Linked DNA regions of Homo sapiens: all the other regions are linked to region 3. The links come from fine-mapping of genetic effects on gene expression. A gene starts in region 3. Each other region holds a variant in brackets. All regions are shown on one strand. Distances are between the middles of the regions.

Region 1 (2,669 bases), 630 kb before region 3:
ACAGAAAAAGAAAAAAAATTAGCCAGGCTTAGGGGTGAACACCCATAGTTGGAGCTACTCAGGAGGCTGAGGTGGGAGGATTGCTTGAGCCCAGGAGTTCAAGGCTGCAGTGAGCTATGATGGCACCACTGCAGTCTAGCCTGGGTGACAGAGCAAGACACTGTCTCTAAAAAACAAACAACAACAAAAAACCAAAGCAGGTGGGCAGCTGGATTTGGCAGTGGCCATCGCTTGCTAACCCACAGGCTAGATCACTGTTCCACATTTGTAATAAATGCTTTGCTGATTGGCATTCCCTGCTTAGCTAGTTTAGTGATTATATTATACTTTTATATTTCTGTTCAGTGGTGGTTGTATTATTTTTAACCTTTTAGTGGTCACTGTCAATAGTAGGGGCTCCCAGTGCCTAGTATTTGATAAGTTTCCCGGATTGGACATTTTAATCAAGAGATAAAAGGCAATTTCTGCATATTGCTCTTTTATTTTGCATATTTCTTTGACTTGTATATTGAAATATTTAGTTCAACATTCATTTGCCATAATTTTACTTTAGAAATCGTTTGTGATTATAAGAAATAATGTCAGCTTTTACCTTATTGGAAACTGATAACATACAATTTAAAGTTCACCAGGCCCAAGATCATGTTGATTTGCTGATGTATAATAATCTGCTTTCAGAGTTATAAGCAAAATCACTTAGTTCACAATTCCAATTGGATGGCATCCCAAGGGCTTAGATTCAAGAACAAATGTGATATTGGGAGTCCCCAATTTAGTATGTTATCAAATGAATTAGGGCTTGATAGTCTAATCGGTCTTGACCAAAACTTCATTTTTTGAAGATAACAACAAAGGCGGTGATTACAGTATGAATTAGGAAAGCCATAATAGAAAGAAAACAATTTAGCTGAGGAAGAAAAGCAATCAGAATTAGGATTTAGAGATTCTGAGAGCAAAGCCTTCTGGCTTCCGGTAGGTATGTTTTTGTTATTCAGTCTTCTTAGAAAGGTTTCCAGCCTGTCCAGCTTCAGGTCCCATTCTAACTGCGTATCTGGTCTGGCTTCGATATCTAGGCAAGCAGAAACCGTCAGTGAGACAGCATCACTAAGGCCTCTTCTGATCAGGCTTGGCGTGGCCGAGGCCTTGGCGACTTACCTTCCAGGGGTTTGGAAACGGGTGTGGTGCCTCTTGTTTTACCGCAAATGG[C/G]TGAGGCTACTGGGGTTATGGCAGTAGGTGACGCCAAACCTGTGGAACACACAGACGAGCTACTGAGCATCTCAGGGTCACTTCTGGAAATCTCCGGGACCCTGACCGATCTCCAGGAGTCCCAGGGTAGACGGCACAACATATAAGAATTTACACACATGCAGGCACACACACACACATTTCACACGTACCACGACTGTGGGACAACCAACTGCAGATGTAGACAGGATTTTATTATTTCCAAGGACTGTAGTGGCTGACGAGCTGATAATCCAAAATGAACGGTGGAGATGTGGGAAAACATGTCCATGACACGTAGACTTGAGCAAATGCAGCTGTGAGTTCTGAGGCCCTTTGGAGATGGTGGGGGCAGCTGAGAGTGCATTGGTGCCATCTGCAGAATGAACTGTGTCACACTTGCCAGCAAGTGGCCCCCCACACTGGAGCTCTCCTCCAGGCTGAGGGGAGGGAGGGACAGTGGCCTTGGGGACATGACACAGACAGTAACCCAAGGAGGGTCAACCTTTCAGAAGAAACCACAGAGCAGGGCAGGTCTGTACCGACTACAAGTTTTGGAAGGTCCAGTCCATCTCCCGTGTGGGCAGAAACAGGAAATGCTTTTCCTCGTATATTTACCGAGAAGCAGGGTGGGGAATCTTTAAAAGGGAAAGTGGTGAGAGACACATGAAAGGGAAAGGGAGGAATTCCTGCATGGAGAAAGTATCCAGCTAGAAGAAGAAAACTTAGTAAAGAGAAGGATGAGTATTGCTTCCCTAACCTAAGTGGAAGGCATTGGAAAGAAAACTAATTAGTGCATTTACAAAAAACCAAAATGAGATGTGAATGTTCTCTGTACTCATTTGTAATAAATGTGAAATCCTTAGATGACATTGCCACTTAGATGACAATGCAACCCTGGACGAACAACATCGACAGGATATGCAAATCACTATCACAAGGAAAACCAAATGAATGAATGATTCTGCCCCTTCCTCCTGTGAACGGGAGAAGTATTATAGCATAAAAAATTTAATAAAAATACAATTAAATGGTTTAAAACTCAAGTTTTAGGTAATATCCTAGAAGTACTTCTCATTTTATATATGTTTGATTGATGATGTCATTAAAAGTTTTAAAAGTTGTTTCAATTGCCAGAACTGCAAAGGGTTTATATCCATGAGAAATTAAACTTTCTTGAAAGATTTAAAGATAAATAAAATCTGGTATCACAGGGTGGGGAGGGAAATCATCATTCACTAGAAGGATGCTTAAGAGACATCAGAGGAGTTCATTAGCAAAGAGGCCGTTAACTCCGCAGCTAATAAACAGGACTGGCTCTGAAGGCTGGTTTCCAAAGCAACCGGAGAAATCCATCCCTATCTTGGCCGGTGCCGGGCAAATCCGCTGCCATGGCTCCCCCTGCTGGCGGTTCAGGCAGTGGCACTATCCAAAAGAGCTCTTCT
Region 2 (2,669 bases), 120 kb before region 3:
ACCAGCTACCTATCAACAGACGCTGTTCCCTGAAAAGCATTGACTTGAAATTGGTGGTCTCTGGGAGGAGGGAGGACACATTCTTCCCTGCTCATCTGCTCTCCCTCACCGCACAGAGGCTGGGACTCAGGTGTGGATCCCTGAGCACAGCTGGGAAGCCCAGCACATCTCTCTCTCCTGCATGGTCCCATACCAGTACTCGGCATTCTCATTTTCAGCCCTTTTTGCTCCCATGAAGAGGAGAGTCTGATGAATGAATTTCCCCAATGATGCCAATTACTGATAAAGCATAAAGTATTATTCTCTTTGAGATGATGGTGTCTGAAGAGGGAAGAAGAGAATGGCCTTTACGTGTAGAATTTCAGGCATGGGCGACCGGAGGGAAAGTGGGCTTTTGATACACACACACACACACACGCACACACACACACATGCACCATGCCCCAGTCCTGCAATCACACATAGGATGCATGCATATATCACTCTCTAGAATGGGCAGCGCTGGCTGGCTCTTCTCTCAGGAGGAGAAAATACCAAGGGCATTGTGGAAACTCCTCTTTCTCCCCATCCTCACTAAGTTTGATGCAGCTTTGATGCTTCCTTTTCTTGCTCGCTAAACTGCAGACTTGTTGAGGCTCCTGTCTTCACACTGCAACTCCTCAGCACATGGGGTACACAGGGCGAGGGAGAGTGAAGGATGGCAAATTCCTCCAGGAAGGCTGGTGTGAGTCTGGCTCTGAGGCCTAGCCCTCCCTGGCACCGGCGGACCCGGGCTGGCCAGGTCCTGCTAGTGCAGATGGCATTCCCAGCCTTTGTGCTCGTATCTCCTCTGTCGCGGGCTAGGTGTTCCTCGGGTGATGGAGCCCACCTCCCCAGCACCATAGCCCTGAAAGCCACATTCTGAGTCAGAGAGAAACCAGGCTGGCAGCAGATTCCACAGCCGCGGCTGTAGGACTGTTCTGTTTGCTCTATTAAGGGACTCTCCTCTTAACTGCCGGGTGAGTCAGAACATTCCATTTCTTCTTCCCTCTCCTGTCTGTCCAGCCCGGCCAGAATTCCTGTCTGAATTCTTCTTCATTAATAGTGATGTGCTCTCCACCCGGAAGTTCCTAAGAGCTCATTTCAGTGGATAATGATTGTTTTTGCAGGAGGGACCCCGATGGTTTTTCCATTTCTGTTTCCATAATATGTACCGAAACCCACACTTCATTGAAAGCAGATGGTGAAAGCGGCCCTCGACATGCGAGGAGACGCCAGGCTACGACGCCTCTGATTTGTCTGCCTTCTGGGCAGCCCTGGCACCGATGGGGGCCAGGACACTGGAGCCCTGGGACTCTGGACATGAGAGCAGGAAGCTGGATAATGGAAAACAAACGGCGGGCCTGGGACGGGAAGATCAAAAGGGAAGGGAAGAAAAAAGCCAATGGAAGAGATGACATCGGGACTCTCCAAGCCTCTCATTCCCGTGTCCTGAGTCTTACAGTGTCAAATTCTTGGGAA[A/G]GTAGTGTGCATCAGGCAGCCGCCCCTCCAGAGGAAATTGGTACTAAAGCCTCAGCTCCAGAGACCTGGGCCTGACCCTCAGCTTCGTCTGCCTCTGTGTAATGTAATGAAAAGCATATTCTCCAACACATCTTTCCCAAGCACATAAGCCCGATTGCTCTGTCTCCAAAAAAGGCAAAGAGGAGGCTTGCTGATTTCCCAACAAAAAACCGTCACCACCGAAGCCTGCTGTGGGAAGCAGGCTTTCCACAATTCTGCGTTGTATAGAGGTCCCAGGCACTGGCCCTATTAAGTCCCTTAACCCTAAGCTTCCAGAATGCAGACCTGGACTCTACTCGCTCAGCATATTCCTCGGTGACTGTTGCTCATCCGAAGCCACTGTCCCTGTAGCTCTGCTGGGCGCGCTGGATGGAGGGGGCAGACACCCAGCTCTCCTGGGCAGTGGAGAAACCTGCACAGCCTCAATCCTGACCCCAAACTTCAGTACAGCTGTCTACTGGTGCCAGAACCTTCTGCACCTTGACCCCAAGCCCATTACTCTACATGCACCTGGACTGGGGTCTCATCTTGGGGCCGAGTGGAGGGGTGGAGGTTTAGCCCTTACCTGGGGTGGGGAGGCCTGATAAGGCAGGTCTTCCTGGAAACTTTTTTTTTTTTTTTTTTTTTTAGTGAATATTGGAAGCATCTCTTGGGAGAAAACTTATCCCAAGAAACAAGGGAGTCTGGCATGATAACTTTTTTTTTTCTTTAAGAGATGGCATCTCACTCTCACCCAGGCTGGAGTGTGATGGCCTGATCATAGCTCCCTACAGCCTCCAACTCTTGAGCTCAAGAGATCCTCATCCCTCAGCCTCCTAAGTAGCTGGACTATAGGTGCATGTCACCACACCAGGTAATTTTTTTTATTTTTTTGAGACGAAGTCTTGCTCTGTCGCCCAGGCTGGAGTGCAGTGGCGCAATCTCGGCTTACTGCAAGCTCTGCCTCCCAGGTTCACGCCATTTTCCTGCCTCAGCCTCCTGAGTAGCTGGGACTACAGGCGTCCACCACCGTGCCCGCCACCACACCCAGCTAATTTTTTGTATTTTTAGTAGAGACAGGGTTTCACCGTGTTAGCCAGGATGGTCTTGATCTCCTGACCTCGTGATCTGCCCACCTCAGCCTCCCAAAG
Region 3 (2,669 bases):
ACTGTGATGAGGATTAAAAGAAATAATACATAGGAAGGGCTCAGATGTGGTAATAGAGCAAAAAAAGTTAGTTATTGGTGTTTCGACAGCAAATACAGTCCTAAAATCATGATGTGGCTAAGTAGTTTTCTGAAAACTAATTTGGCAAGGTCACCAGTCTGCTGTGCCATCCATGTTTTGTCTGGGTGGACTTAACTAACATTCCCTGTCTCTCCCCAATGCATCAGCAATATTTCACATTTTTTGTCTTCTGTCTGCCTTCCAAAATTATGAAAACGTTCGCCCTGAGCAGACCCAGGCAGCAGTCTAATCTTTCTGCCCCTTCCCGCTGTAAGAGAAATATGGAGTGGGTTTGGGGTTACCCAAATGACCCCAAATGTTCATTCTGGTCTGAACTCTCCCACTGACCTCCTCCTATCTCTCCTCCTACCCCTGCCCTGTAGGCAAATCCTGCTCCTGTCATCAGTTTCCTCCTCTGCCACAGGAGAGTATGGGCCAGCTGATCTGAAGGTGGCTTCCAGACTCCTTCAGACTTTTTTTTGAAAGAAGTAAATCCCAAGCTGTTGTCACCATCACTGTTTTCTGCTCTTCATAATATCGATGTGTTATGTGGGTGCGTTTGTGTGTGTGTGTGTGTGTGTGTATAGCCATACTGTGTTCCCATGTATGTATGTATATGTGTCAGTGTGTTTGGCTGCATCTGTGCGTGACTGTATATGGGTGTGTTTGTGTGCACCTGCGTGTGACTGTATTTGAGTGTGTGTGCACTTGTCTGTGACTGTGTGTGCACCTGTGTGTCCTGTATATGTGTTTGTGTGCGCCTGTTTCCTGTGAGTGTGTTTGTGTGCATCTGTGTGTGGGTGTATATGAGTGTGTTTGCATACATCTTTGTGTGTTTGTGTGATATGAATATGTTTGCTTTCTGTGTATCTGTGAGAGTGTGTGTGTCTTTGGACATTTCCACAGGGTTGACGTGGCCCAAACCCAAGTGACAAGAAAAGAGGGAATGGTGGTCAGCTCACTTGTGCCTTCTGCGCGACCCACGCAGGCGGACCCCAAAAGCCTAGGAAGCTCGTGGCCTGGATACCGCCCTCAGCGCAGAGGAGGCAGCCCCGGGCGGTGGGCGGGGCGGGCCCGGGCGGTGGGCGGGGCGGACGGCGGTTCTCCGGGCATGCTCGGCCTCGGCGGCTGCAGGCGGGGCGGGTCGCGCTGGTCCCCGGCCGGCCGGAGCGGCGGCGGTGGCGGCGCGAGGCGGCATGAGGGAGCCGCTCGGTAAGTCCCGGCGTCTAACCCTCCTGGCTCCCACCGTCCATTAGGGCCGCTCCCACGGCGCTTCGCGGGCCTCACCCGCAGCCTCCCGCACTCCCCCCAACTTCTCCAGCTGGGACGTCGCTCCGGTTCCAGCCACCCTGGCGGTGGGGGATGTCTGCACCCCCAGTCGCAGCCCCGCCTGGGCCCCCCGCGCGGTGCCTAGCCCGGCAGCCTCGGGGTGGAGGGCGCCTGCCAGCCCGGGAGGGGCGTCCCCTCCCCTCAGGTGCCCCGCTCGGAGCGCGGGGGTCCCGGGGCGGGCACCGCGGGCCGCGGCTGGCGTTAGCGCTCGCGTCGCCCCTCGGCGCGCGGAGGGCCTGGGGGGCCGGGGTCACTCACTCCCCTCTCGAAGTCGCCCTCCCCAGCCTGTGTCCACCAACCCCTCCCGCGCCCTCGCGCCCAGATCTCGCGGACCTCACCCCAGAGCTGACAGCCGCCGCGCTGGGTCCCCGAGGTCCCAGTTCCCACGCTGCCCCGGCCGTCTGGACTGCCCGGGACGGTGGGGGGCTCCCGCCGCGGCCCCGCTCCCGCTCCGGTCTCTGCGCGGTCTGCGCTGGGGATTAGGGCGCTAATCGCAGCTGCCTCCCAGCGAGTGCCCGGGGCCGCCCGGCTCCTGGCTGCGCGTGGGATGGGAGAAGGGCAGGAGCCCCGCCTAGGAGTGCTGTAAATCCCGTTAATTATCTCATTTATGGGATCTGGAACCCGCCCTCCTAGGGTCTCTGCGCTCAGATCTCCGCGGGCACCCTCTACTTCCCCCGTCTCCAGTCGGGGTCCGTTCACCCCCAAAATGCCAGGGTTTGCCTCGATGCCCTGGCCACAGTGGGGCCCAGCACTAGCTGCTAAAAAGCGCCCCTCTCGCTTCCGTCAAGAAGCAGAGCGCCTGGGATTCTTCTGGGCATTTGTAAAGAAGCTGTGATTTCACTACTGAAGAAGAAAATAAAAACGAGAACTTTAGGCCAGCGCTACCTGGGCATGCCCTGGTGTTTGGTCATCCACGCGCTTAAGGAGTAGAGAGGCCTTGGGGGAATTAGCTTGGGCACATCACCTCCCCACACCTACACCCACTCTCCCACCCCCGCACGCACTCCACCCGCCTCCCGTGTCCTCATTCCCTCCCCAAATCTAGTAGCTTGGTCTTAGTCTTGGGGAGAGGGGTGGGGCGGTGCAGACCACACAACTCCCAGGGTTTCCTGTCCTGACAGTTTAATGTGATGTTTCTCCCACAACTTGTTTTCCTTCTCCGGTCTTTTGTCTTTTCAGATTTACAAGGAATAGATAACCCAGAGATTGAGGGCTAGGGTTGCAAAATACAGGGATTTGGGGGAAGGGGCCTGATGGGTAGGATTCGGGCAGCCAGAAAT

Which allele goes with the higher level. Alleles are on the strand shown, and positions count from the first base shown. SD is a standard deviation of normalised expression in the study named. Not every link is listed here.
For the expression in fibroblasts of the gene that starts at base 1,168 in region 3, allele G in region 2 goes with a lower level than allele A (moderate effect, 0.58 SD a copy in GTEx).

Evidence for each region. PIP is the estimated chance that this variant, and not a neighbour inherited with it, causes the effect. A credible set is the group of variants that fine-mapping cannot tell apart.
Region 1: its variant is the best candidate, but not a certain one, in a credible set for the expression of JCAD in aorta (GTEx, PIP 0.77).
Region 2: its variant is the best candidate, but not a certain one, in a credible set for the expression of JCAD in fibroblasts (GTEx, PIP 0.75).

The regions. Positions count from the first base shown.
Region 1 is chr10:30,687,815-30,690,483 of GRCh38, reverse strand. No RefSeq gene overlaps it. Among named protein-coding and RNA genes, the nearest start is that of LINC02644, 34 kb to the left of the region's middle. RefSeq lists an enhancer at 2,444-2,669. The variant C/G (reference allele first, on the strand shown) is at 1,207.
Region 2 is chr10:30,181,287-30,183,955 of GRCh38, reverse strand. No RefSeq gene overlaps it. Among named protein-coding and RNA genes, the nearest start is that of JCAD, 120 kb to the right of the region's middle. The variant A/G (reference allele first, on the strand shown) is at 1,501.
Region 3 is chr10:30,058,085-30,060,753 of GRCh38, reverse strand. It overlaps JCAD (junctional cadherin 5 associated), which reads left to right and starts at 1,168. Exons shown (of 4, transcript NM_020848.4): 1 at 1,168-1,272. LOC101929256 (a long non-coding RNA gene) reads right to left here and starts at 1,916. Exons shown (of 4, transcript XR_001747405.2): 1 at 1,728-1,916. RefSeq lists a silencer at 1,056-1,225.